Regions from separate parts of the Homo sapiens genome. Here region 2 is reported to be linked to region 1. Evidence: microRNA targets listed by miRTarBase, many of them from high-throughput screens and not tested one by one. Region 1 holds a microRNA gene; the other region holds the end of a gene's coding sequence.

Region 1 (3,000 bases):
TAGTTGAGACTTCCAATAAGATTTTATCATTTCTCTTCCAAATAGTGGAAGCCTGATAAATGATGTTAGGATTCTGTACTAGTCTTACTAGTACTTATTCATAGATCTAGAAGTCTCTGTGTCCATTGTGAGATGGGCTGTACGTGGGTCAAATACAGCTTCTGAAGAAGTTGAGATTTGTCTTTGTGCTCTGCTATTAACAGCATCCTAATGAAGCACTCAAGCTACTCCCATCTTCTCTCTGCTTCCTCCATACTGCGCCCCCCAGCCCAATCTCCCTAAAATCTTTCCTTCCTGAGAATTGTTCCTCCATATCTGCCTCTTTCCTGGATCCTCATCCAAACTTGCCTTTGCATTTCTTACTCCCTCAGAGCCTTGCTAGGAGATGATTTGCTAATCTTTGACATGGCTAAGAATAGTAAATGTCCTTTGAGAACAATACAATCTTGCACTAACATACAACGGGAATAATAAAGTTACTATTCATATTTTAAAGGGCAATTTTGCAGGTTGTCAACATCTTACCCTAAAGGAGTGAGTTCCCAATGGTGTAATCTCAGTGACAAACTGTATACCGTGATAGGTGACAGGACCTTCAGGTCATGGGCAGAAAGTGATCTTAATAAAGGCTGACCTTGGCCACTGCAGCCTGCATGTTCTGGGGCATCCTGAGGTCTCCCTGTGTGACTGACACTTCCCCTGAGGACTATTCCCAGTGCAGTCAGTAGGAAACCTTAGTGGTCAATGATGGTGGGCCAGGGAGGTGAGGGACAGAGGATGTGTCAGATATCCTAATAGTATATACAGTTTAAAGACTCATTTCATAATTTTGGGAGTTGTTTTCTAGGGATATTGTGATCGTTCAAATGTAAATATCTGCATCTTGAATATACTGGAAAAAAGTGATTGGCATGTTTTAGGGGCAGCTCTAGCAGTATAACAGTGTACGGGTTTGCCCCTTTATGGTTTGTGGGTAGGAAGAGATTTATTCTGAACTAGTTTTCTCTGCTACCCAACTGCTTATGAAATATGAACACAGGCTGGGTTCAGTGGCTCAAGCCTGTAATCCCAGCGCTTTGGGAGGCCAAAGCAGGTGGATCACTTGAGGTCAGGAGTTCGAGACCAGCCTGGTCAACACGGTTAAACCCTGTCTCTACTAAAAATACAAAAGATTAGCCAGGTGTGGTAGCACACGCCTGTAGTCCCAGCTGCTTGGGAGGCTGAGGCAGGAGAATTGCTTGAACCCAAGAGGAGAGGTTGCAGTGAGCTGAGATTGCACCACTGCACTCCAGCCTGGGTGACAGAGCTAGACACTGTCTCAAAAAAAAAATAAAAAAGAAAAAAGAAAGAAAGAAATATGAACACAAGCTTGAAACTCAATAAAATTGAGATTTAGATCTGTCACTTGCCCTCAACAGGCACAACAAGGTAAGGTGGCCAGATTTAACAATTAAAAATACAGATGTCCTATTAAATTTGAATTTCTGATAATCATTGAATTTATTTTAGTCAAAGTAGGTACCCAATTTTATCTACCAAACCTAGTCACATGACAATTTAGATGTATAGAAAAAAATGTAGGTTCCTTGTCTTCCTTACAAACCCACTTCTGCTGGTTGGCAATAATAATAATAATAATAATAATAATAATAATAATAATAATAATAATTTTTATTCCTGGCCAAGTTAAAAGCTCACCTGGTCCAATCAATTTGAATAGTCCCTTAAGGGGCTCAGTCTGAAATAAAATCCTCCCTTGCTCAGATGTCATCTTTTTTCTCCACTGCCCAGCTGTCTTGCTAAACAGTGTCTGGGGATTTGGAGAAGTGGTGAGCGCAGGTCTTTGGCACCATCTCCCCTGGTCCCTTGGCTCTGTCCATAGCCTTCCCAGCCACTGCTGGCCTCCAACGCTGAATCCTGCAGCTGGTAAATCCATGGTCAGCCATGGCCTGGGCAATGCCCCTGGGATTGCTGGCAACCCCACACTTACAGATTCAGTCTCTGCTCAGCTCCCCTTAGCTTCAGACAACTTAGCATCTGCCAAACTCTCATCCCAGCAACTCCTGACCCAGGGCCCATCCTAGGATCATCTCACCCCACCATAGTTGCCTCCTTGCAAGTCTGCTGGTTGCCGTCTGATGTCTGAGATTCTTCCTTCTGTCTGGACCTCTAGAGACCTCGAAATTGAGCCAGGCCAGACCTACTCCAGTGACCTTCTCCTAGGGTCTCAAATGGTGCAGTGGAGCCAGGGTTCCCTGAGCCCTTTGACATTCTCCTCACTTAGCTCACACACTTTCCCTCTCCTCCCTGAGGCTAGAAGAGAAATCAGAACTTGGTCCTCACAGCTTGACTTGCCACCATCTTTTCCCTCATTTCCACAAGTTGCTGGGATCTTGAGGGCTGGGTTTTCTCACTATTTCTCACTCTTCTCTGTGCTTCCCTACTTCTATAACTTCAAGCTTCTTGTCTTAGTTGGGAGGGGTATCTTCTTTGCACGATGGGAAAATTTTGGCAATTAGAATCCTCTAGGCCTCACCCTGGATAGGTTACAATGGTTGTCAAAAGTGTGATCATGCCCAGGAACTTCTGGAAAATACAAATTCCCAGGCCCTGCTCTAAGCCTAATGAATTGGGAACTCTGGAGTTTGAGCCTAGCAATCTGATTTACCAAGTCTTCCCCATGATTCTGATGCACCCTAAAGAACCATGGCATTAAATATTTCAGCAAATTCTCTCTCTCCCTCTCTACCAACGCCTTTCTTACCATTTTTCATGCCTAAACTCTTATTAGACAGACCGGATACTCCCTCTTAATCTAATTGATTGATTAGCTACATAAACTCAAATCATTTTGTGATTAAAAAAAGAAATGTATAGCCTTAAAAGCAAAGGAAATTCTGATATATGCTACAACATGGATGAACCCTAAGGACATTATGCTAAGTGAAATAAGCCAGTCACAAAAAGACAAATACTGTAAATGATTCCACTTGTATAAGG
Region 2 (3,000 bases), not on the chromosome of region 1:
CTGTTTTCATTAAAACTGGAAATTAACTGGTCAGTATTCCACATTCATAATTAGCCCATCCAAAAATCAAGGTCTGCTTATTGGTACACTTGGGCCTTTTCTTCACATGATAATTTGTATTTAGACACACACGCATTTATGGATTCCTTCCAAATTTTACATTTTTTAGTCTTCTTTTTTGATTAAACTTATTATTCCTTCTTCAAGAGGAGGTATCTGTAATGCTTGGCTCAACATTGCAAGGACAGCTCCTCCCTCATCCACATTTACTTCCGAAGTGTCTCCACAACATGCAATCGTGTTGCCCACCCAAGGCATCATTCGTGGGTCAGAAAATGTCGCTGTGAGAGTTGCGTGTGCTTCAGTGTTTTTCCCTTTGTTTTCATACTGCACTTTGAAAAGGATTCAATGACATCTAATGACCTTAATAAGAAATTTTATTCTTATGGGGGCCCTTGACTTAGGGATAATTTCTCTTTTATATGTTTTTGATATGGCAGGCTAATGTATCATTTTGTTCTTTTATTCCACAAACGCAGCAAATTCTAAGCCTAGGCCTGAGCAACTCAGTCTTTCTCAATCACATACAAACTGTGAATGTTGCTATGACTTACTGTAATTTATTTTTGTATATGCTATATTGATTTATGAATGGTATTTACGCATATACTTCATGACATAAAGCCAGTAGAGAACAAATAAGCATGGATACAGTAAGTATAAATATAAATTTCCATATGATTTATTGTTGTTCCTTGTACATAAGAAACAGTAATATACAACTTACACTGCTTTAGAATGTAAAATGGATAAAAATGTGTACAAAAAAAAGCACATTCCTAGAAAAAGGTATTGGCAAATAGTAAAAATGGGAGGTCAAAAGCAAAAAAAAAAAAAAAAAAAAACAAAACAAAAAAAAGAAAAAACCAACAATTCTTCAATTCAGTGTGCAAACATTATATAAAAATAGAAATACTAACTCTACAGGCAGTATTTCCTGATAAATTATTTAAATAGCATATCTACACAATCTGAGATATCTATTCCAATGGCAATGAGAAAATAATTTATAAAAATAAAGCAATGGTATACCAGATGATAGAAAAAAAACATAACTTTCAGAAATTGTATTTAACATTTCAATGCTATTTCCTTATTGGGAATACTTCTCTGCAGAGTTTTTATGCTATGTACAACACTGACTTTTTAGGTACTACAGTAGCTTTAAGTTTGTTAGACACTTAAACTCTTTCCGCTTGATCCAAAAATTCTTTACTCAGTCACACAACAAATGAGGTAATATTTGTATGTAAGTTTCACCTTTTGTCATTTTTTTCTCTTTTGGAAAAATGAAAGAAAAAAGTGTATATGCTTTCCTTCTCCCTGGAAATATGCACAAGGGATGGGGTAAAACAGTATTGAAGACCTCATGGCTTTCTTTGCAATTTAAAACATTTGCAAATGGATAACCAACTAATTCCACTTGAAAAGATAAAACAGAGAAAAAAAGAATCCCATAACATCCACTCTGAGCACAAGGGGCAGAGCAGCTTATTAGACTGATTTTCCTTGTGCTGTTCTTGCAAGAGATTTGCTGATAAATGTCAACTACTTGCTCTCAAACACTTTCCGTATGAAGCCTAAATTTCCAGGCAGAACAGAGTTAATAAATAATCTGTATTTACAATCTTACAGTCACGAAGACTCTCAACAAAGATGACATGGATAGTCTTTACGCTTCTTCCTGTTCCATGAATAATCCTTCAGCCAGATCTTCCAGAATAAGTAAAAAATAAATATTTTACATCGTAAAGCATTTAAAAAAAATCTACATTCCAAAAGAGAGAATTAGAAAACTCCATGATAATTCAGGAAAAAAGAGAAAAGGAATGTTTTAGTTAGGTTGATAATAATTTTGTGCCATTGTAACCATAAAAATATAAGCACGGCTGCCCCTCCTTTGGGAGGCAGCTGGTGCTCACTGAGATGGTAGGTTTTCCTATTTTCCTGCTACATCTGCACAAGCTACATCTAGAATGAAGCCACCAATTTCAATGTGACCAGGCAATGGCAGCCAGCACTGCCTTACACTGGTTTGATTCTGATTCCCTAATTCTGGCCACTGCAGGTGATGAGTAAGGGTGGGGATCAGGGAGGAAGTCCAGAAGCCAGTCTTTGTCTCCCTTTCCTGCTTCTATTTAAGTGCCTATTTACATGGGTTAATCAGCTAACGCCAGTCAGCATCATGAAATCCAGCAATAGTCTTTCAATCCCCTGAAAATGACTTAGTACCGAACATGTAACAGTTCCTCCATATTTTCTTCATACAATCGTCTCGGGTATGCGCCCTCCCCTTAGTGCTTTGGCCTCTGCTCCCCGTGTTCCTGAAGGAGGATGTCAGGGTGGTTTTGTTTGCTAATTCTAGTGAGTCCTCCCTTCTCTGACATGCCTGAAAATGCTTTTGAGTCCACTGCTCAGAGATGGCCTCACAATAGCACCCTGCTCTGTGACAAAGGCAGAGTGGAATGGGCACCTTCCCAACTGAAGCAAGTAGATGCTTTTTCAAAAGGAAACCAAAGCAATTGTTTATATGCTTGGAAGATGTCTTATTCATTGGAGGCTGAATGCTGAGTCTGTTTTTGAAAACTGCATTTTCTTGAGGCAGGTCGCACGTTCTAGGAGTCCACACTGATGCAAGCACAGAAAAGAAGGAAGCCAAGGAGAAGTGATCCTGGGGGTTTTCTCAAGCCCATAGTTCCAGAAGGTGCAATACCAGCATTGGTTTATGATCAGTCTTTCAATCAACAATTTGATGATTAGGGATCTGTTAAATAAACAAATATAAATAAATATACAAATGAAAACTAATTCATAAAAGCATAGACATCTTAGTTAATAAGTTAACCACATAGGAATAGCTCTACTTTTCTAATGACAAAAGCCTAATTTTAAGGTTGTTCAAGCACATTAGCATTTAATTTTATTAGCTGACATTGATGC

The links. Region 1 holds the annotated microRNA hsa-miR-4450 (UGGGGAUUUGGAGAAGUGGUGA, at 1,812-1,833, shown strand). A microRNA usually pairs through its seed, bases 2 to 8, with sites in the 3' UTR of a target mRNA and lowers its output. Matches are read on the target gene's strand: a 7mer-m8 pairs with bases 2 to 8, a 7mer-A1 pairs with bases 2 to 7 and ends in A, and an 8mer does both.
Region 2: miRTarBase lists THBS1 as a target of hsa-miR-4450. Seed matches in the 3' UTR shown: 7mer-A1 at 2,143-2,149.

What each region holds. Positions count from the first base shown.
Region 1 is chr4:76,571,761-76,574,760 of GRCh38, forward strand. MIR4450 (microRNA 4450) reads left to right here and starts at 1,808; the gene lies at 1,808-1,872. The region is part of intron 2 of SHROOM3 (shroom family member 3); the gene reads left to right.
Region 2 is chr15:39,595,186-39,598,185 of GRCh38, reverse strand. THBS1 (thrombospondin 1) reads right to left here. Exons shown (of 22, transcript NM_003246.4): 22 at 1-2,824. The coding sequence ends at 2,817. It also overlaps a transcript of FSIP1 not described here. Among named protein-coding and RNA genes, the nearest start is that of THBS1-IT1, 11 kb to the right of the region's middle.